Homo sapiens: one gene and its partners. The protein of the gene in region 1 purifies or fractionates together with the protein of each later gene. This does not show direct contact. Each region holds a gene or a part of one and is shown on either strand. Other genes may lie near its edges.

Evidence for each region.
Region 2: the proteins of RMP64 (region 1) and POP1 purify together in Homo sapiens (affinity purification with mass spectrometry; 2 studies listed by BioGRID and IntAct, with this or other methods). This does not show direct contact.
Region 3: the proteins of RMP64 (region 1) and RPP38 purify together in Homo sapiens (affinity purification with mass spectrometry; 2 studies listed by BioGRID and IntAct, with this or other methods). This does not show direct contact.
Region 4: the proteins of RMP64 (region 1) and RPP14 purify together in Homo sapiens (affinity purification with mass spectrometry; 2 studies listed by BioGRID and IntAct, with this or other methods). This does not show direct contact.

What each region holds. Positions count from the first base shown.
Region 1 is NC_000003.12:113,002,632-113,009,673, forward strand, and holds part of RMP64 (nucleolus and neural progenitor protein), read right to left. Parts: intron 5,800-7,042; coding exon 5,540-5,799; intron 3,400-5,539; coding exon of another isoform or gene 3,374-3,399; coding exon 2,905-3,373; 3' UTR 1-2,904. UniProt on the Homo sapiens protein: May play a role in cortex development as part of the Notch signaling pathway. Downstream of Notch may repress the expression of proneural genes and inhibit neuronal differentiation thereby maintaining neural progenitors.
Region 2 is NC_000008.11:98,127,282-98,134,323, forward strand, and holds part of POP1 (ribonucleases P/MRP protein subunit POP1), read left to right. Parts: intron 1-313; coding exon 314-481; intron 482-1,083; coding exon 1,084-1,259; intron 1,260-2,696; coding exon 2,697-2,945; intron 2,946-6,667; coding exon 6,668-6,755; intron 6,756-7,042. UniProt on the Homo sapiens protein: Component of ribonuclease P, a ribonucleoprotein complex that generates mature tRNA molecules by cleaving their 5'-ends. Also a component of the MRP ribonuclease complex, which cleaves pre-rRNA sequences.
Region 3 is NC_000010.11:15,100,348-15,104,792, forward strand, and holds the end of RPP38 (ribonuclease P protein subunit p38), read left to right. Parts: intron 1-1,870; 5' UTR 1,871-1,989; intron 1,990-2,957; 5' UTR 2,958-2,967; coding exon 2,968-3,819; 3' UTR 3,820-3,910; downstream 3,911-4,445. UniProt on the Homo sapiens protein: Component of ribonuclease P, a ribonucleoprotein complex that generates mature tRNA molecules by cleaving their 5'-ends. Also a component of the MRP ribonuclease complex, which cleaves pre-rRNA sequences.
Region 4 is NC_000003.12:58,316,208-58,320,698, forward strand, and holds the end of RPP14 (ribonuclease P protein subunit p14), read left to right. Parts: intron 1-307; coding exon 308-384; intron 385-707; coding exon 708-786; intron 787-1,232; coding exon 1,233-1,289; 3' UTR 1,290-1,406; coding exon of another isoform or gene 1,407-1,913; 3' UTR 1,914-3,986; downstream 3,987-4,491. Other genes in the region: HTD2 (hydroxyacyl-thioester dehydratase type 2, mitochondrial), read left to right, coding at 1,407-1,913. UniProt on the Homo sapiens protein: Component of ribonuclease P, a ribonucleoprotein complex that generates mature tRNA molecules by cleaving their 5'-ends.

The DNA of each region.
Region 1 (7,042 bases):
AACTTGCTTAAGGCCAGGATTTACAGTGTGTGTGTGTGTGTGTGTTCTTTTAATAGATAAAAGTAGAAATCTTAGAGGGCATTCCAGGAACTGGTTATCAGAAGTCAACATGGTAGATTAGCATCCAAGATGGAAGTTACTTTAGCCTCATACTGTGCCTGTGAATTTCTTTGAGGAGGGGATGGGGTGGCCCCACACCTCTTCCAGGTTGTACATACCCAAGTGCTAGGCAGTTCCTGTAGCTGGTGAGAAGCCCAGGGGCAGGAAGTGAGACATCCCCAGAGCAAGAGGCAAGGTTCAGCCCTGCTTGAAACTGGTTGCCACAGCAGTGACTTTAGTATGAAGGCCAAGAGGATTGGAAGTGACACACAGGAGGTCTCAAACACTGCTCTTATAAATGGCCTGTGTGTCCTAATGCCATCAGAAGTGATAAAGTTGGTACTAGGATGTGGGTAATCCCAGCACTTTGGGAGACCAAAGTGGGTGGATCCCTTGAGTCCAGGAGTTTGAGACCAGCCTAAGCAACATGGTGAAACCCTATCTCTACACAAAGTTTTTAAAAAATTAGCCAGGGCATGGTGGTGCCTATAGTGTCAGCTACTCAGGCGGCTGAGGTGGGAGAATAGCTTGAGCCCAGGAGGTGGAGGGTGCAGTGAACTGAGATCATACCACTGTGCTCCAGCCTGGGCAACAGCACAAGACTCTGTCTCAAAAAATAATAATAATAATAATTCACTACGATGACCCTGACAATAGTTTCTAATCTCATTTACTAGGTAAGTTACAGTTTGGTATACTTTAGATTGCATTTTTTTAAATGTTAAATATTTGGATTTATTTGGAAAAAGTAACTGATACAGAATACTGAATTCCTTATAAACATACAAATTGTCATTTTGTGGACACATGTGAAGCTTTTTTGCCATTTTCCCAGAATAGTAAAGGGCAGAAGATGGGAAAATGAGAGGAGATGAAGATACTCCAAAAGAACATGAATGAATTTGGAAACAAATGCTAGACTGGCAGCCCAGTCCATGCTATATTGTCCTTAACTCACTGAACCACCCTGGTTTTTCCAATGAAAGATAAGCTCCAAAGTTTATTTCAGCTATAAAAGTTTCATTCTTGAAAAAATTCCACTTCAAATCCAGAAACCTAAGCCTGAGGAAACTGACTAGCTCAGTGAAGCCACAAGTAGGAGAAGCAAGACTGAACCTTAAATCTCCTAATTCCCAGGGAGTTTTTTTCTGAATCAGCTAAATGAAGTATTAAAAGAGGCTACTTAGGGGACTGGGTGCATGAATATAGACAACTCTCAGCAAATAAGCCCTATGGTCCACAAAGCTATACACCAGTTCTCTTACTAATTTACCTTCTATTTCCCAATAGGTAAAGGATATTCATTGAACACAAGGACACTTAGAAGTTAATGGCCATTTCTAGACTTGTCTAGAATGAAATCTCCTTGGTATTGTCTGTATTTTAAGGCACTAAATGGATACTACCACTTGGTAGAAAGCCAAAAGGAATATGAAAACTGACTACAGATTAAGAATTAAACCAGTTTACTTAAGGCTTCAGGAGAGAAGCTAAAGTAGTGTTTATATAACTGGATTTGGGGGCCACCTGGATCAAAATCACTTGGGCTCCATGTTAAAAATGCAGGTTTCTGGCCCCTGTTTATCAGTCTCTGGGAAAGGGCTAATCTGCATCTTTTAGCAACCCACCAGGTGATTCTCAAAAAGTCTAAAGTTTGAGAACCACTGGTAGAGATAACTGAGAAAATGGAGAAGGCAGACAGGGAAAGAACAAAGCCAAATAAAGAATGGAAGGGAAATAACTTCTGTTATGATAGGGTGGCTGAGGAAAAGAAGGATGCGGTACATACTAAGGTACTACTTTCTTTTTCTTTAAATCTCTATGTAACAAAAGTTAAGGGCACTAGAGAAGCTTAATAACCTAATTCTAGTAAAGTTAGAACATTGGAAAGATACCTACCTCAAACTTCACATCATTATTTGAAAATACTCAAGATGTACTCCCCTCAGAGCAACAGTACGAGCAACATCCCCTATCAGATGACAGCATCAACACCAAATTATAAATGTTCTAGCCTCATTCCTGGGTCTACTTTGTATCTCCTAACCTCATTTTTTCATTTTACTTTCTCATCTACCTGTTATCCTATTATATTTCATATGTAACCATAAACCACCTTATTGCCTTTTTGTAAAAAGGTTTATTTGGAATCAATCACTGGTACCCAAATAAATAAAATTAAAACGTTTTGGAGAACTCCAAACTCACTTTAATATGAGATAAGCCAAGCAAATGAAGAGAAATAATGGTTGTAACCAGTCCCTGGTAATACAAGCAGTGGCAAACCTTGTTGATCAATTCCAACATATAAACAAGAAAACATAAATGTCAGGAGCTACAAACTTTAGTATTCAGAGGCGGACCTATGTATAATGGAGCCAATAAGACCAAATTGACCTTTCAGGTGTTTCCTTGCTATCTCCCACCCCCGCTCCTCATTTACCTCAAGACACAATGGTTTTTGCAAACGATTATTAAATTGCCTAGTAAGTCATAAAATTATTCAGTTTTTCAGAGACTTACTAGCCTCACTCAAGGAATTACATCTGCTTCTCAAGGGTAGGCTGTGGCAGATTTTTCATATTAACACCTGACATGTAGTTGAAGCCAAAAAAGAAATACTTGTTGATGAAATGACACAATGCTACTTTAAATGTAGACTGAACTGAAATGAACTCCTGTGCAATGCTGCACTAAAGCAGCTCCTCTGTGAGTCCAGGTGGTACTTCCAGATCTTAGCAGTTCTACTTAGAACACTGAACTAGCCTTGTTAATCACTTAAAAGTCTCACATATGAACGAACATCTAAACTCCCATTAAAGCAAAAATATCATCAATGTCATCTGTCTCCTTAATGGTTCCTGATGTACTGTTTTTATTTATTTGCATCACCGTCCACGAATCAGTTTCATTTTCATGGATGCCTCTAAGATTTTCATGAATCATTTTCTCCTTAGTTTGTATGACAGGCATTGAAACTCCACTATTCAAGAGCTGCTTACTGTTAGGGTAGAGATCAGTTCTATGCACAGTACAGTGTGAGAGTCTCCACTTAGCACTGGTATCTGTAGCACTCTTCCGAGTCCCTTGAGAGAACTGCTGAATTTCCCTTAAAAGAGTCGACTGCAACTTTCTCTGTGGTTTCCTTTGTCTCCGTAAAAATTTATTCTGTGATCTTCTCTGTCTCAGATGATGCTTTGAAGTTTTGATACCTGAGCCACGAAGAAGGTGGTTGCAAATAGACGTTTTTATGCACTCTAGTTTCTTTGGCAAACTTTAAAAGACAGAGAGAGGAAAAATCTGGGCTTAAGATGAGAAAAACATTCTCAAGCACTTTTAATTTACCAACTGAAAAGAAAAATACACAACTTATCTACAAGTCCTATGCCTGTGTACAATCCCAGAACCACATCGAAAAATTTCACCCCAAGTCTGTTTTTTGAGAGCACAAATGCCCTCTGATTGAAGTGTAGACGAATGTGTCCCCATTTTGCTTTCAAACTCTCAAAAGTACAGCCGCCTAGCAATTAGCTGAATGGCGAGATACCCTATACTTTAGTGTCAGAGCTTTTCCCTCATAACTGCTAATCTGTTCATAATGTAATGAGTGGACATGAGGAAACATCACAAATGAAAAAATCTGCCAGTACGTATTAATCCGAATCTGGATAATCAGCTTCATGCTGTGGCAGGAAATGAACAAGGAAAAAGGAATAAAGGCTAAGAGGGGTTTATAAAACAATATGAAGACAGGGCTTCTGGCCCAGATACACAGACAGCCTTAAGCTACCCTAATTATGATTCATATGTCATCTTCAAGTTTGGAAATTCAGAAATCAAACAGCTGATCATTTTAGGTGTTTTGCTTCCACACACGGTACACTGCCACAAGGTTCATCAGTGCCTTGCTGAATTGTTTCACTGTTTGTGATAGATTTTAAAAGACGGGCATGGATATAAAACTTTGAGGAAGCCCATTATAATAAAGTAAATCATGATCTTTGCTTCCATACCATTTTCTTATCTCACTATAAGCAGTGGCTTTTAAGTGGGGAGAAGGTGGGTGTACTTCAGAGTTGAAAGGAAAACAGAGGGCCTGAACTGAGTTCCACATCTAACCCCTTGAGCAAAATCCTCCATTTACCCATCTATGAAATGGGAATAATACTGTCTACCTCACAATGTTATTATGGACATTAAATAAATTATAAAGTTTACTACAAATATATTAATGAAACAGCAAAACAGGGCAATCTATGAAGGAGCACTATATCTGGGGGAGTACTGAGTAATGGTTTAACCAATAAACACCAGTTTGCTACCCTTCTCATTAACTTTTAGTTGTTACCTCTGCCTCATCTACCCTTGATTTTAAACCCAATTTTAAACAGAATGCTTCTCTCCATCTCAGGCTGCGTCTCCAGCCATAGGATACATCACTTTTAGATTATTACAGACCTTTAGAGGAGCCATCTCAATGTAAAAACCCCTCAAGCACTTTATCCCTCAGGAATATTCAACCACTTTCCCCATAGCTTTTAATCAAAATGTGTTACAAAACCCTCACTGTATACTTTTTTTTTTCTAAAACAGGAATATATTTTATGCAAATTTTAAAAGAAAATTTAACAAATTTTCAATACGTGGTTCATCCCCAGGAATGAACTTTAAATCCCTGAATAGCTCTAAACTATGGATAAGAAATTATGGGGCATGCACAGGATATTTGTTAAAGAATACAATAAAAAACAGGTCAGAATAATTGCCTCTGTGAAGGTGGAATAGGCTCTTAATACATATTTGTGTCTGAAATCATTACCGTTAAGCCCTGAAGTGTCTAATGTCTAAATTCATGTAATACTTCATGCAATACTGGTTCACAAGCAAAGATAAGCACCCTTAAACAGTTGTGAATATAAAAATCACAGAAAAGAAATATAGATAGAGTCCAGCTGCTACAAACAGTAGCAAGTAGCAACAGTACAACACCCCAGCAGTCTTGTGTGGGCCTCATGGAAGGCAGGCACCTTCTGCTTCTGCTCTCATGCCCTTATCCCACTGCACTGCACTGAAGCTGTCTGCAGAAGGGCTGCCTTTCCCAGAAGACCCTGAGCTCCCTGAAGACCAAGTCACGTCTTTATGCAGTTGTATCCTCAGGCTCAGCACACTAGACACTCTTAATGGTTCCTGAATGAGCTGATGGAAATGATGAAGAGCATAACGGGGACTGAAGTCCAATTAACTTGTTTATCTTCTTCCTCCAATGATACAGCTTTGCTCTTACAATAAAAGCAGCAAATGCAATTGCAGTTTGAGTACATCCCAATTTAGCCCCGCTGCGGCTGCTGGACATCACATTTTAAAGAAAAGTGACCTGAATACTTTTACTCATAACAACAACAGAAAAAGTAAAGTAACATAATTTTTGCAATATACCTACCTAGTACCTTGAGCTTCCAGATGTTTAAGCCGGTTGCTTTTAAGAAGTTTGTTACCCAGAAAAATGGCCTGAGCCTTGAGTTTTTTGCTCCTGCACCATACAACTGCCATCTGGATTTCTTCAGAAAGTTGTGTGAAGGACTCAGCCTCTCGGAATCTTTGCACAAAACTTTTGGCATGAGGAGTTCCTATCACTTTCTGAGAAGAATACTTGGTTGTCTTTAGTCTGGATTGAGAACATTTAAAATCAAAACTGGTCTCCTGAAACGTGGAAAGATGAGAAAAATATATTGGACATGTTACTGACTTGTAATTATATGACAACAAGGAAAGCTAGCTCACAATCAAAATTTAAAAATTAGAATTATCAGTCCCTAAATGCTTGAAGTGATGGATACCCCATTTACCCTGTGGTTATTATGCACTATATGCTTATAACAAAATACGTACCCCATAAATATATATACCTGCTACGTACCCACAAAACCTAAAAATTAAAAAAAAAAAATCAGTCTGTAAGGAAATTTTTTTGCTCACTAAGCTTTCCTTATGTCTTTAAAAACTGAATTTTTCTCCACTGCTCCAAATACAAGTTGTTTTGTTCCCCCTCTGTACCAGGACAGGTCCCATCTGCAGCTGAATTAGATTGACATAGGAAAGTTAACATAAATATCCTAACACACATATCTCACATACACAATAAAAAAACCCCACATGATTAAATACTGGTCAAAGCCTAATTGCAGAGGGTTGGGGGATCACTGAAAGGCCCCTCTTCGCTACACCACCAGATTATCACGACTTGTTTTTCACTTATTTCCGTATCCTGGGCAAACCTCCTCAATTTAGAAATGTTTCTGAAAACAGGGAAGATATGGGGCCCTGCAGAGTGCCCAGCAGAATAAGCCCATTAATCAGTTAATGCCTGCTGAATATCTATTAAAAATGCTCAATTGAGCAACACTTCCAATTCTACTTCAACCATCTTCTGACAAGGCACCTTTACTTCTTCAACCCCTTCTTTCTATATCAAGTCACATTTGGATTTTACTAACGTTTACTATTTCTTTATGAAAATATGCTGCCTACGAGATGATCTGCTCTTTCATTCAAAGCTTACCTTCTTCCAAATTTCTTACACTCAAAAGGAACTTTAAAAAAAAGTAGAAAATATAAAAGTAATGACCCAGGTCAATAGTTTATGTTTGGTGATCAATAGAAGTAGTTTGCTTTAAAGCTAAGCAAGTTAGTGCTATTTGCTAAAAATATAGTAGCAGTTAGTTTTGAGTAAGAGGGATGCTGACCCACCAACTTCAAAGCCAGCTCACCTACAAACAGGTGCACAGGCTGCAGAAGTTTCAAGGTTCACAAAGCACCATAGTTCTTGAGATACAGTTGAAAAACTGTTCTGGGGACTGGTGAATAGTAAAGAAGAAAGACTATGAAACCATACTGCCTGCATTCAAATCGCAGCTCTACCATTTATTCACTATGTGGCCTGGCA
Region 2 (7,042 bases), on another chromosome or scaffold:
GGAGCTTAGATTTGAAATTCATGTTGCACCGTTTATAGGAGAAAATTTCACCTGTATCTGTTATATCCAAGGTCCTTTATATGTCATCCTGACATGATTACCTTGTGTGCTACCTACTAGCTTTGTGACCTCGAGCAAGTTAATTCACCTTCCTACGTAAGATTCCTCTTTAAAAATAAGTAGTAATAGCCACCTTACAGGGTGACTATAGGATTAAAAACATGGTCAATGTTGCCACCCAACAAATATTAGTTCTCCACTATAATGTTTATCTCTGATAAAGGTGACATGTTTCTTTTTGAAAATATACTAGAGCCTCATCCTGGAACTTCACGACAGCGGCAAACCAGAGTCAACCCCCATTCTCTGCCTGACCCTGAAGTGAATGAGCAGTCTTCCTCCAAAGGGATGTTTAGAAAAAAGGGAGGATGGAAAGCAGGTCCCGAGGGCACGTCTCAGGAGATCCCCAAGTATATAACTGGTGGGTACTCATAAAGAGGTGCAGTTTGCTTGTATTTTGAACTCTCGTGTCTAGTGCAGCAACAAACTGCCCTCCTTGTGGTCCTGGCTCTGCCTCCCCTACCTCTCCTCTCCTCCTCCTACTTTAGACCCTTCTCGCCTCTAGCCTGGACTTTGGCCAGAGCTTCCTTGGGCTTGATGGCTCTCCCTTCTTCAGTTTCTCTCCCTGTCTCTTACTCTTCTTCTTACAAGTCTTTGTGAACTGTTCCTCTTTGTCTTAGCCCCCGTGCCCCTCTTGTTTTAAATATGCCATCCACACTCAGCACAGCATTCTCCAAGGATGGAAAATTGAGTACACACAAATGGCAACCAAACCTTTATTTAAAGGGCCTGTCTCCAGGCCCTTTCCATCCTCTTCTGTTCTTCACCCTATGATCCCCATCCACACTACCACAATTAAACCCTATATTCCTTGTACCTTGTACCTATACCTTAGATATGCTTTCTGGTCTCTCTTTACGCCTTCTTGGTGGAGGAATTCAGTTAAGTTTCCCCAGCAGCCTGTTTATTCTCCAATGTTAATTCAAGATTGGTGTTTAATGACTTTGTCATCTCCTTCAACAGCTTCTACTTTTGCTCAAGCACGAGCTGCTGAAATCAGTGCTATGTTAAAAGCTGTGACCCAGAAGTCTTCGAATTCACTGGTTTTTCAGACTCTGCCACGGCACATGCGACGAAGAGCCATGAGCCACAACGTCAAACGCCTTCCCAGACGGTTACAGGAGATTGCCCAGAAAGAGGTAGGAGTTCCACTTAGTGTAAATGTTTAGATTAGTAGCTCCTAGAAGAAATTGAGAAGTATTGACCTAATAGAATTTATTAAAAATGAAAACCAAGGCTGGGCATGGTGGCTCACGCCTGTAATCTCAGCACTTTGAGAGGCTGAGGTGGTCAGATTGCTTGAGCCCAGGAGTTCAAGACCAGCCTGGGCAATATGGCCTAACCTTGTCTCTACAAAAAAATCCGCAAATTAGCTGGGCGTGATGGTACATGTGTGCCTGTAGTCCCAGCTACTTGGAAACTGAGATGGGAGGGTACCCTGAGCCAGGGGAGGTTGAGGCTGCAATGAGCTGTGATCATGCTACTGTACTCCAGCCTGGGTGACAGTGAGACCTTGTCTAAAAAGAAAAAAAAAACTCAGAAAACATCACCCTTATGGTTTTTGTTTTTGTTTTGCATATATTTGATTTAATCATTATCCAAACTTCTTCCCTTCAAACGAAATTCACAGGCAATTGGCTATTATGGGTGCTTTGAAATATAGGATTTGATACTCCTCTCTTGTAAGGGTGTTGAATAGTTGATGTTCCCTTCCCAGATGTTAAAAAAAAACTCTGACCCTCTTACCGAGTGGTTTTGGATCTGTGTTTCTAGGGTGTGCCCAGCTTGGGGTAGGAAGGTTAAAAAAAAGCAATGTCAATGCTTAGCATTTGCTTTCTGACTTTTTCGAAGTTGAAAACTTGAACTGGGTTTTAATTTTTGTACAAGTCTAATTGTGTTTTGGCTTCACCAGAATTCTAGACTTGAACATTCTAAGATTAAGCCCATGTCTTTACTAATTGGTTTAAAACCTATTTATTGAGCAGCCTTCTATGTACCATTGCTATGCTGGTGGTGGGGTTTGAGTTCAAGAGGGAAAACTAACAAGGAATTTTATACTTTCTAGATTTAATATAAAATCTGTTTCCCAGTGATAGCATTCAGCATGTGTATGTCTGTAGCTTAACTGAGATGAAATGTATGGGTTTTCCTCACTTGTATTATTTTTGGTCTTAAGTTTTTGGTTTTAGTTACAATTCTACAGGTTAAAATGACAACAAGAAGCTAGCATTTGATTTCTTCTTTCTTGCCCTCTAATACTAATAGCCATATTAAGCTTGTGTTACTGTGTTGAACATTTTATAAGTATTCTGATCTTCATATTCCATGAAACTTGCCTAGTTAGTGAGTGATGGAACTGTGCCTCCTTCCTAGGTCTCCTAGCTCTAAAACATTCACTCTTTCCATTGTCTTCCTTCTCTACTTACATTGAAGAAACTAAGTTAACAATTTAAGCAAACTAATGGGATCTATAAAATATTCCACTTAATCTAAAGTTATTTGTTTGCATTCCTGACCGTTAACTCTGTTTTGAGATTCTTACAAACTGGGATATGTCCCTCTACTTGAAACTATAGGCGGAGAAAGCCGTACATCAGAAAAAAGAACATTCAAAAAATAAATGCCATAAAGCTCGAAGATGTCACATGAACCGGACGCTAGAATTTAACCGTAGACAAAAGAAGAACATTTGGTTAGAAACTCACATCTGGCACGCCAAGCGGTTTCATATGGTCAAGAAGTGGGGCTACTGCCTTGGGGAGAGGCCAACAGTCAAGAGCCACAGAGCCTGCTATCGAGCCATGACGAACCGGTGCCTCCTGCAGGTGAGCTTTTCCAGTGGGCTTTTTTTGTTATTTTTGTTTGATCCTTTTCCATAGAGGCCTTTAGAATAGTTTATGATGTGCCAAGCCCCGTTTATGTGATTATTCATTTTAAAAATAATTCCTGAGCATGAAGCCCGGGTCCTTTGCCAGATGCTGGAGATCAGGCAGCCTAAAGTTAGGGGGGTGACTGACATTAATCAAACGATTTACCAGATATGTGGTTGTAAGGGAAAAGCATACAGTATGATGAGCATTTCTAACCTAACTGGAAGGCGTCCCCCAGAAGTGCTGTTTGAGCTGAGCTCTAAGGGATAAGATGGGAGGAGAGGGGGAAGGCAGAAGGAAGCCAGGTGAGAGTGAAGAACTGGAATCAATTCTGTGTGACAGAGAAGAAGAGAAGGAGAACAAGGCAACATCAGGGCAAGGTTAGCCTAGAGAAAAGAGTAGGAACCAGGTCGTGCAGGTCTTGTTGATCATGTCAAGTTTTATTCACTATAGATTAATCTAACAGTCGTTCATCAATAACAGATATTTGAGAATCAACTGTGTACCCTGAACAGGGTTCAGAATGCTGGTCTAGGTGTTTATGGGTCAGTGGGATGCTGGGAAGGATGTTTTAAATTTTAAACGCTTTGAGAGGACAGATTATGTTAGAGCCTCTTAATAGTATTTATCTGATTGCTCCCTCCTCTCAGAAGCTAATTCAGTTGCTTTCTATTTCTTCCAATACATACTTAGACATTTGTTCTTTGCAGAAGGGCCTATCTTTCAGTGGCAGAATGGCCTTGGCCAAATTTTGAAAGCCATTACTATTGGTGTCCTTTGATACCCCTTGAGAGTAATGTGGTAGAATAAGCAATACAAGAATCTTTTTAAAAAATTGTGGTCAAATATACATAACAAAACCATTTGACCATTTTAAGTGTATAGTTCTGTGGCATTAAGTACGTTTACGTTGTGTAATCAGTACCACCATCCATCTCCAGAACTTTTTTATCCTTCCAAACTGAAACTCTCGACTCATTAAACACTAACTCCCATTCCTTCAGCCCCTGGCAGCCACCATTCTATTGTCTATCCAATAATTTGATCCTATAGGTGCTTCATAGGGGTGAAATCATACAATATTTGTCTTTTTGTGACTGGCTTATTTCATTTAGCATAATGTCTTAAAATTCATCCGTGTTGTAGCATGTGTCAGAATTCCCTTCCCTTTTAAGGCTGAAGATGTATTCCATTGTAGGTATATACCGTATCTTGATTATTCATTTATCTGTCAGTGGACATTTGGCTTACTTCCACCTTTTGGCTATTGTAAATAATGCTGCTGTGAACATGGATATGCAAATATCGTTACAGTCCCTGCTTTCAGTCCTCTTGAATATATCCCCAGAAGTGTAATTGCTGGATCATATGATAATTCTATGTTAATTTTATGTTTAATTTTTTGAGGTACTGCCTTACCATTTTCCATAGCAACTGTATCATTTTACATTCCCACCAGCAATACACAAGGGTTCCAATTTCTCCTCATCCTTTTCAGTACTTGTTACTTTATTTATTTATTTGATCACAGTCATTCTAATGAGTGTGAAGTGAATAAGAGGACCTTTTAGGAGTCTTTGATTTGAGAACTCAGCAGCAGAAATCATAGATAATAGTCAAGTTCCTCATTCACATTGAGGAAGCTGGGTTCTGGAGAGATGAAGTGACTTGCCTGGGCTCACACAGCTTGTTGGTGGCCTACATAGCACTTGGGTGGCTGATTCCCCTGGCTTGTGCTTTTTCCACTGTCCTCTGCCAATGAGTTACTTTTCATTTTGGGCATAATTTTTGCTGAAGTTATCAGATATTTTCTCTAAAATTTGATCAGCCCTAAGTAATAAAACTAATAGCTAATAATAACAAATATTAGTGAGTGCTTAATATATGCCCTACCCTGTTTTAAATGGTTTGCATGTGTTTACTCATTTAATCCTCAGAATAGTACGAAGTAAGGAGTTACCATTATTTCCATTTTACAGATGGGGAAACTGAGGTACAGAGAGGTTAGGTAGTTTACCCATGATTGTATGGCCAATGAGTGTTGAGGTTCAGATTTGAGCCCAGTTGCCTGACTCCAGGGTTCCACACTCTGAACCATTATTCTCTGCTGTCACTTGTTTGGGTGAGGTTCCTCTGGCCACTGACAGCTGAGAGCTGGTCACTGGATGGGAAGATTTCTTTGTGTGAGTGATCATATTGATTGACATGCGTTGTCAGAATCATAGCTATAATTTCCCTTTTAGTTCTAGTTACTGAGTGCACTGAAATTGCTTAAAGATGCTATAGCAGAAGGGTTGGTTTGGCAGATCACTGAGCCTGATTAGAATGCTGGCTTCTCCACTTAATGACTGTGTCTTTGTTCAAGTAACAATCTCTGTGTCACAGTGTCCTTGTCTGTCAGATAAGATAACCATACTAGGTACATCTGGTTGTCAGGAAGACTAAATGACTGTTCATGTAAGGAGTTAACTCATTGCTGGCACTCAGTAACCCTTCAATGACTATTAACTATTATAGGCCAGGCATGGCAGCTCATGCTTAGAATCACAGCATTTTGGGAGGCTGAGGCAGGAGGATTGCTTGAGCCCTGGGGTTCAAGACCAGTCTGGGCAACATAGTGAGACTCTGTCTCTGCAAAAAAAAAAAAAAAAAAAAAAAAATCTGGGTGTGGTGGCTCGTGCCTGTAGTCCCAGCTACCTGGGAGGCTGAGGCAGGAGGATTGCTTGAGCTCTGGGGTTCAAGACCAGTCTGGGCAACATAGTGAGACTCTGTCTCTGCAAAAAAAAAAAAAAAAAAAAAGCTGGGTGTGGTGGCTCGTGCCTGTAGTCCCAGCTACCTGGGAGGCTGAGGCAGGAGGATTGCTTGAGCCCAGGAAGTTGAGACTTCTGTGAGCTGTGATTGCGCCTCTGTACTCTAGCACTGGCAACAGAGTGAGACCCTGTCTCAAAAACAAAACAAACTGTTAGAATTATTATTATAATTATTATTATGGATACTATAACTATTGAAACTTTTAACATTGATTTCATTAGCTTAGTCTGATCTCTCTTCATCTTACTTGAAATTGTATGTTATTACTTTTACTTTCTTTGTACTGTGCTTAAAGTTGCATATCATGGTCAAGACTGAGTATGGGAGAAATATGGGATGGATTAATTGCAATATTGTATCTCTAGGCTTAGTGTTAAGTAATCTTGAGGTCCTGAATTAGCTAACCAAATTGAGCAACCTGAGCATAATTTTGCAGAATTCATTACTGTTTTGCTTATTTTACTCTGGTTTCTTACCTTAGGTAGACTTTGGGGGTGAATGGTTCTCTACTTAGAGGCAACAGTTATGTACCCTCCGTAGAACCTGTCTATGAATATGGGATAAAACATAGATTACCTAAAAAGTAGGATACCGTAACTTACATTTTAAATGGAGATTCATTTTTATTTTGGTTCGGGTTGGTTTAAAAATATTTGTTAAGGTGACAGGAATGGACAGGTTTAGATATTTTTTCCACTAAACCATCGGGCAGGAGAAGGTTTAGATTTTGACTTATGAGAACATAGCTTTAGCAATTTGTTTTGTGTCTTAGGCCTCTAAAGGTTTTGTGATACGGCTTTTGGCTTCTTAGCAGTTTTGCCTGTGTAAATTCCTAAGTACTTAATTGTGTCTCCCGCTTTGTGCAGGATTTATCCTATTACTGTTGTTTGGAGTTGAAAGGCAAAGAGGAAGAAATACTAAAGGCGCTTTCTGGAATGTGTAACATAGACACAGGTAAACTTGTTTTAAAGCTGAGTTCTATTTTAGTCTATGTATATTTATTCATTTCATAAAGAAGTGTCTACTGTAAGCATTTTGGAATTCAAACATATAGAAAAGTGTGTGAGACACTAATCATTCCCAATGAAAATGTTAACTTAAAAACAGTTGGGTTGGCTTTTAAATAATTTCTAACATTGTCAAGTGTAAAGTGATAGAGTCATTTTTCTGGTGGAGTGAACTTGACAGAAAGAAACTTGAAGCTCTCATTACTCATTTAACACATATTTGTTGAGAACTTA
Region 3 (4,445 bases), on another chromosome or scaffold:
CAGTCACTGCATTGCATCTGGATGAGCCACTTTTCTTCCTGATTTCCTGAGCTCTAGGGGAGCATAGAGATAATGGGGTCAGGGGACACAGTGTGGCCACCGTGAAGGAAGCAGCTTAGGCCCCAGAAGTCTCCAGGATTGCTGTACCGAGATGACCAGGGTGTGATCTCTCACCCTAAGGAGCTGAATTTGGCTTTTCTGTGGGAAAGTGTCTGGGAAGAATATCAGAGACCAATAGCGCTCAGGGGGCCCTTTCTCGGGGCTGTCCAGTGTGGAAACACCCTGTCCTACACCAGTGGTTCCTGATTCCGGCTCTGAATCAGATTCACGAGGGCAACTTTTTTTTTTTTTTTGATATGGAGTCTTGCTGTCGCCCAGGCTAGAATGCAGTGGCGCGATCTTGACTCACTACAACCTCCGTCTCCTGGATTCAAGAGATTCTCCTGCCTCAGCCTCCAAGTAGCTGGGATTACAGGCAGGCACCACCATGCCTGGCTAATTTTTTTGTATTTTTTAGTAGAGACGGGATTTCGCCATATTGGCCAGGCTGGTCTCGAACTCCTGACCTTATGATCCGCCCGCCTTGGGCTCCCAATGTGCTTTGGTTACTGGCGTGAGCCACTGCACCCGGCCTGGGGCAGCTTTTTATAAGCACAGATGCCCAGGCCTTATTATTGAAGATTCCAATTCAGTAGATCTGGGTTGAGGACCAAGCATCTGCATGTTTTAAGAAGCCACAGGTTATTTTTGAGGTGTAGCAAGGATTGAAAGAACAGAAAACTTGGATTTGGAAAACTAGTTGTGACTTTAGGCAGTGAGTCAGTTTCCTAATGCACACATTGGGGGATTCTATAGGAATGCTGTAAGAAGCAAATAATACATGGAGAGAGTGCTTTATACAGCGATACACTGCACAGACACACTTGCCTTCAACATCAGCTGCCAGCCTAGTAAGTGGTAGTATAAATGCAAAGGATATAACTTCCTTTAGTTTTGCCAGGTGGGTCCCTGTGATTCTAGCTGAGCCCCAGGAAGGAAGGGAAGAAAACTGAGGGAAGAGAAGGGAGTGTGTAGTTGCCTCTGGGAAGGATAAAAGGATATGCCCTCTGGACCAATAGTTTATAACATTTTCCCCATTAAGCATCCTTCTACTCATTTTTCCTCAATGGATTAGTATCTTTAAATTTCATTACATTTCCCTAGTCTTCATGGAATTGCCAGCCAGAGAAGTCAGCTCGGGGTCCCCCTAAAAAGGAGGACTGGCCGGGAGTGGTGGCTCGTTCCTGTAATCCCAGCACTCTGGGAAGCTGAGGTGGGTGAATCACCTGAGGTCAGGAGTTCGAGACCCGCCTGGCCAACATGGTGAACCCCATCTCTACTAAAAATACAAAAATTAGCCAGGCGTGGTGTTGGGCACCTATAATCCCAGCTACTCCGGAGGCTGTGGCAGGAGAATCGCTTGAATCTGGGAGGCAGAGGTTGCAATAAGCTGAGATCATGCCATTGCACTCCAGCCTAGGCAACAAGAGCAAAACTCCGTCTCAAAAAACAAAAAAAAGGGAGTGTATGCCTGCATATGTATCAAATGCTGTAGGAAGGATATTCAAGAAATTTAGGGCCCTGGGAGGTGGGGAGACTTACAAAAGTGGACGTGACAGTGTTATTTGAAGTTTTAATCATGAGATGACTGTTCAGTTCTTTAAAATATCACACCTGATTGGTTGTGAATGGCAGAGGCCACCAGAGTATTTGCAGATTGGGAGCTCTACGTGGGTGGACATCGGGTCTTGCTTACTGTGAGCCCCAGGACCTAGAACACCACTTGCATACTGGAGGTGCTCAGATCATTTTTTTTTTTTTTTTTTTGCAGACAGGGTCAGATGTGTTACTGGGCTGGAGTGTGGTGGCACAATCACGCTCACTGCATCCTTGACCTCCTGGGCTCAAGTGATCTTCCCACCTCAGCCTCCCAAGTAGCTGGGACTACAGGTACGCCTCACACTTAGCTAATTTATGTATTTTTTGTAGAGGGTTTCTCCATTTGCTCAGAGTGGTCTCGAACTCATGGGCTGAAGTGATCTGTCCACCACAGCCTCCCGAAATTCTGAGACTGAAGGCATGAGCCAGTGTGCCAGGCCTAGAATATTTGTTGAGTGAATGCATGGAAGCCCAACTAGATAGCATTTTGGAAAACAGTAACAAGTTAGAAGATTAATACCATACAGTCACTAGAAGGTTAATTATGAACAAGTAGAAACAGAATATTTTTAATAAATGAAATAGACAAATGGAATTGTACTATGATTGCAATAATTAAAACTTTCACATATTGCTTGTATAGGAATAAAGACAAAGTCATATAAAAAAATGGGGAAAATTAAACACTACTCACCCATAGTCCTGAGTATTTTAAAGAGCCTTCGTAGAGCATTCAAAATCGGGTAAGAAAAATGGGGAAAAATAAAATTACTTAATCTTTAAAAGGAAGACAAGCGTATGCTCACCTAATTGGACTTATATAATCAGGCTTGCTCTAGCTTATCCAGAATCAGAGTACAGGCCGGGCGCAGTGGCTCATGCCTGTAATCCCAGCACTTTGGGAGGCCGAGGTGGGTGGATCACCTGAGGTCAGGAGTTTGAGACCAGCCTGGGCAACATGGTGAAACCCTGTCTCTACTAAAAAAAAATAGAAACATTAGCTGGGCTTGGTGGCGGGCGCCTGTAATCCCAGCTACTCGGGAGGCTGAGGCAGGAGAATCGCTTGAACCCAGGAGGTGGAGGTTGCAGTGAGCTGAGATTGTGCCACTGCACTCCAGCCTGGGCAACAAGAGTGAAATTCTGTCTCAAAAAATAAATACATAAATAAATAAGAATCAGAGAGTACAGTCAAGATATTCTTAAGTCATGCAGTTGTCGCTAACATGAATTTTTTCTGTTGTCATTTTGCTTCTTGGAAGGATTTTCAAAATGGCTGCAGCTCCTCAAGCACCGGGGCGGGGATCTCTCCGTAAGACGAGACCTCTGGTTGTGAAGACGTCGTTGAACAACCCATACATCATCCGCTGGAGCGCTCTGGAGAGCGAGGATATGCACTTCATCCTACAGACGCTTGAGGACAGGCTTAAAGCTATTGGACTTCAGAAGATTGAAGATAAGAAGAAAAAGAACAAAACACCTTTTCTGAAAAAAGAAAGCAGAGAGAAATGCAGCATTGCTGTTGATATTAGTGAGAATCTGAAGGAGAAGAAAACAGATGCTAAGCAGCAAGTGTCAGGGTGGACGCCTGCACACGTCAGGAAGCAGCTTGCCATTGGCGTTAACGAAGTTACCAGAGCCCTGGAAAGGAGGGAACTGCTGTTAGTTCTGGTGTGTAAATCAGTCAAGCCTGCCATGATCACCTCACACTTGATTCAGTTAAGCCTAAGCAGAAGTGTCCCTGCCTGTCAGGTCCCCCGGCTCAGTGAGAGAATCGCCCCCGTCATTGGCTTAAAATGTGTTCTAGCCTTGGCGTTCAAAAAGAACACCACTGACTTTGTGGACGAAGTAAGAGCCATCATCCCCAGAGTCCCCAGTTTAAGTGTACCATGGCTTCAAGACAGAATTGAAGATTCTGGGGAAAATTTAGAGACTGAACCTCTGGAAAGCCAAGACAGAGAGCTTTTGGACACTTCATTTGAAGATCTGTCAAAACCTAAGAGAAAGCTTGCTGACGGTCGGCAGGCTTCTGTAACATTACAACCCCTTAAAATAAAGAAACTGATTCCAAACCCTAATAAGATAAGGAAACCACCCAAAAGTAAAAAAGCTACTCCAAAGTAATCTTGCATAAACTTGTCATGTCATACAGTTTGTGAAAGGACACCTTGTAAAGAAGCCTTGAAACTAATAAAATGAGTTATACTTACATAGATTCATAGGGTCCTGTTTGGTAATATTCAAATGTGTAAGACTCTTTGTAACTATGGCACAGATATACTAAGTGCAGGAAATATTCAAAATTAGGAATAGCCAAACAGACATTTATTGAAACTAGTGTTCATGCGTGTGTAAATTGACTTTTTCTTTTTCTTTTTTTTTTTTTTGAGACAGTTTCACTCTTGTTGTCCAGGCTGGAGTGCAATGGTGCGGTCTCAGCTCACTGCAACCTCCTCCTCACGGGTTCAAGCAATTCTCCTGCCTCAGCTTCCCAAGTATCTGGGACTACAGGTGCGCACCACCATGCCTAGCTAAGTTTTGTATTTTTAGTAGACACGGGGTTTTACCATGTTGGCCAGGATGGTTTCCGTCTCTTGACCTCGTGATTTGCCCACGTCAGCCTCCCAAAGTGCTAGGATTACAGCTGCGAGCCACCGTGCCTGGCCTTTTTTTTTTTTTTTTTGAGACAGAGTTTCGTTCTGTCGCCAAGGCAGGAGTGCAGCGGCGCAATCTCGGCTCACTGCACCCTC
Region 4 (4,491 bases), about 55 Mb from region 1:
AAGAGAAAGTATGGTGTCCTGTACAAGAAAGAACATAGCAAGCTGACTTTGTCTCATCTTGAAGATCAGTCAAGGAACAATTTAAATGAAGGCTCAAAGGATGAGAGACATCAGCCATATGAAGAGGTGTAGGCAGAACATTCTAGGCAGGGGGAGCTGTAAGTAGGCAACTAAAGTGCCAGCACCATTAAATAAAATACTGCTTATGTGGAGGAGAAAAGCTCAAAACTCATTTGTTGTCAAAAGTTGACAAGCATTCAAGAATAATGGTGAGAATAGCCTGCTAATAGCATTATTCCATATGCAGGTTGATGCCGCCTTACCTTTGGACATCCTAACCTATGAAGAGAAGACCTTGTCAGCCATCTTGAGAATATGTAGCAGGTATGACAGAGAGTGGGAAATTTCTAGTATAACAGGGCAGAGAGACCGATGGAGCAAAAATGCTCTCTTCTGAGAATGAGAATAAATTTTTTGTTGTGAACTCTGAGCAGCTTTTGGGAATTTAAACTGGGATGAATATGAACATTCATCCACCAGAAACTTGTACTCTAGAGAGGGCAAAACTTACGATTTGGTTACAGCTGTAGTTTTCCCATTGATGGTTATAGTTGCAAAGTCAGAAGTGAATATTTTAGAAACCTTAGTTGAAGTTCATTTTGTTCTCTGTCTATGACACACTATGTATTTTCTTGATCTTTCTGCAGTGGTCTTGTCAAATTGTGGAGCTCTTTGACCCTGTTAGGATCCTATAAAGGCAAAAAATGTGCTTTCCGGGTGATTCAGGTAAAGACTATTCCCTCACATATTCCAAACAAGACTGAGTGATGGGTCAACTGCTTCTTAATATACACAACTCATTTTTGTGCTTGCATAAATGTAATATGGTTAAAATGATCTAAGTAGGGGAAAATAAAGGACTTGATTGTTTCCAAAAATGTGAGACAGAGCACTTAGATTTTAAAATCTATGGGAGATGTTTTGGGATAAAACTTGCAACCCTGTGGTTAAGGCTTACTTTTTTTATTTAACACTTAATGCCTTGTGTGTTATATATTGGTACGCTCTTTTTGAGATGTGACCACTTGTTATCGAAGGCTTCCTCTCAGGATGCTCTGTAAAATGCTCCTGCATCAGCTTTGTTTATCCTGTAAAACTGGGCATGTTTCCCCATTGCCCTGTGCTTCAGTGTGGTTTCTCCCAATGCCTTAACCTTTTTCTTTCTCTTCTAGGTTTCTCCATTTCTTCTTGCATTATCTGGTAATAGTAGGGAACTAGTATTGGATTGAATGAATAGTCTTCCATTTTGGAAACGTTCATCCACTCTCATATTTATTTTTTGGTGCCTGCATGTTTGAAGACTGAAGCAGGCTAAAAGCTCTTGATGAAATTTGAGGGTGCTGAAGATGTTCCCACTAATTTCCAGCCATCACCTTTGGTGGGGTGGGCTTCGGAGGACAGTCTGTCTGAACCTGCCAGTGCTGACCCTGCAGCACTTTCAGCATATGCACATCAAAGTTGGAGACCGCGCTGAACTTAGGAGGGCCTTCACACAGACTGATGTGGCTACCTTCTCAGAATTAACAGGGGATGTCAATCCTTTGCATTTGAATGAAGACTTTGCAAAACACACCAAGTTTGGAAATACAATTGTACATGGAGTTTTGATCAACGGACTTATCTCAGCTCTCCTAGGAACTAAAATGCCAGGGCCAGGCTGTGTATTTCTTTCCCAGGAAATTAGCTTTCCAGCCCCTTTATATATTGGAGAAGTTGTTTTAGCTTCTGCAGAAGTGAAAAAGCTGAAGCGGTTCATTGCTATTATTGCAGTGTCATGTTCTGTAATAGAAAGTAAAAAGACTGTTATGGAAGGCTGGGTTAAAGTTATGGTTCCAGAAGCTTCCAAATCCTGAAATAGATGTTTTAAAGATGCAACCTCAAACACCAATGCTGTTGTTAAAGAGCCTATGGGGAATTGCTGCTCTTTACCAAAGAATGGTTGATAGGCCCAGAAGCCCATCTTAGTTAGGGGAAGGGAGCAGGAAGAGGGTTGTTCAAATGCCCACTTTCCAGTTTGGCCTTATGCTTCATGCAGACTTGAGTGTATGCAGGATTTCATTATCTGCCTGGGTTTTTTGTTTGTTTTTTGTTTTTTAATTCAAGAAGTAGGCTGGGCCCGGTGGCTCATGCCTGTAATCCTGGCACTTTGGGAGGCTGCGGCAGGCGGATCACTTGAGGTCAGGAGTCCAAGACCAGCCTGGCCAACATGGTGAAACCCCATCTCTACCAAAAAAAAAAAAAAAAAAAAAGTGCAACTAGCTGTGCTTGGTGACTTGGCCCTGTAGTCCCAGTTGCTTGGGAGGCTGAGGTGGGAGAATTGCTTGGGCCTGAGAGCTGGAGGTTATGGTGAGAAACTGAGATTGCACCACTGCACTGTAGCCTGAGTGACAGAGCGAGACCCTGTCTCAAGAAAGAAGTATTGGGAAGGTTATTTAAAGACTCTACTTTTAAATCAGGCGTGGCAGCTCACGCCTGTAATCCCAGCATTTTGGGAGGCTGAGGCAGGCGAATCACTTGAGGTCAGGAGTTCAAGACCAGCCTGGCCAACATGTGAAACCCCATCTCTACTAAAAATACAAAAACTAACCGGGCATGGTGGCGGGCACCTGTAATCCCAGCTACTTGGGAGGCTGAGGCAGGAGAATCTCTTGAACCTGGGAGGTTGCAGTGAGCTGAAATCACACCACTGCACTTCAGCCTGGGTGACAGAGCAAAACTCCACCTCAAAAAAAAAAAAAAGATTCTACTTTTAGAAATTCAGACCTAGATAGATTTGCATTTGGATAACAAATCCCTACCTATAGCCATGTGGAAGCAGCTTGTCACTGTATTTTAACTGTGTAACAATTATTGAAGGCGAAAATAGAAGTTGGGTCATCTTTGAACACCTACCTTTTATCAATGAATATTTTTAGACTGTTCTTCAGTATCTGAGTCAGAGTTTATTGTAATTTGTTATTTACACCAAGGTGGCATCTTAGTCTACCTTCAGTGAGACTTGCGTTTCAGGGGAGGGGCGTATGTGCATCCTCGGTCTCAGTTATGTAAACGGTCTGATCTGTAAAATAGTGGTAGCACATGCCATGTGGGATAGTTGGTGGAGATGATAGATGGAGTTAAGCACAGGGCCCAGCCTGTCAGCAGTAGCTACTATTATTGTTGCCCATTTCCCCTGCAACTGAGGTGAGAGGTTTTCCTGAGTTTGAAGCTGACTGGCCCACAGTTAAACGTAACAGACCAGTTTTTCAGGGTGTCAGCCAACCTCTATTAGTGTTCTTAAGTACAGTTTCTGTTATAAAAGTTCAGATTATTCCTTGAAAATTTGGATCTACCTCCCATTATTATGAGTAATACATGCTTATAGTAAAAAAAAAAAAATTGTAAGAAATAAATATTAAGAAGATTATGGAGGCCAAATTCTTAAGACTTTGGGGGCTGGGGTCAGGGAGGTTATATTGAAGGGGAGATGTGCCTAACATGTTACTACTAAATGGCCATCCCAACACAGCCAACACTTTTGTTTCCCATTTTTTTTTGTTTCCCGTTTTTTAATAAAATTGAGATATAATTCACATACCATAAAATTCACCTTTTAAAAGTGTACAGTTTAGTGGTTTTCAGAATATCCACAAAGTTGTACAACCATCACCAAATCAATTTTTTATAGCATTTTTCATCACCCCCAAAAGAACCTCCCATTAGCAGTCAATCCATTTCTCTCCTCCAGTCTTTGGGAATCACCAGTCTACTTTCTGTCTCTATGGGTTTCCCTGTTCTGGACATTTCATAAAAGTTCATACAATGTATGATCCTTTGGAACTGGCTTCTTTGATATAGCATGTTTTCAGGGTTCATCCATGTTACAGCATGTATCAGTACATCATTTTATTTTATGGCTGAATAATATTCCATTGTATTTACCCATACATCAGTTGATATTTGGATTATTTTCGCTTTTGGGCTGTTAAAAATAATGTTATGAACATTATAGAAGAGGTTTTTATGTGCACAGGTTTTAAATATATATATATATATATATTTTCTTTTTTTCTTTTTTGAGATGGAGTCTTGCTCTGTCGCCCAGGCTGGAGTGCAGTGGTGCGATCCCAGCTCACTGCAAGCTCCTCCTCCTGGGTTCAGGCCATTCTCCTGCCTCAGCCTCCCAAGTAGCTGGGACTACAGGCGCCTGCAACCACGCCCGGCTAATTTTTTGTATTTTTAATAGAGACGGGGTTTCACCGTGTTAACCGGGATGGTCTCGATCTCCTGACCTCGTGATCTGCCTGCCTCGGCCTCCCAAAGTGCTGGGATTACAGGCGTTAGCCATTGCGCCTGGCCGACAGGTTTTAAATTCTAGGAGTGGAATTGCTGGATCATGTAACTTTAATATTATAAAGAATTGTCAAATTGTTGTTCAAATTACTATTGGGC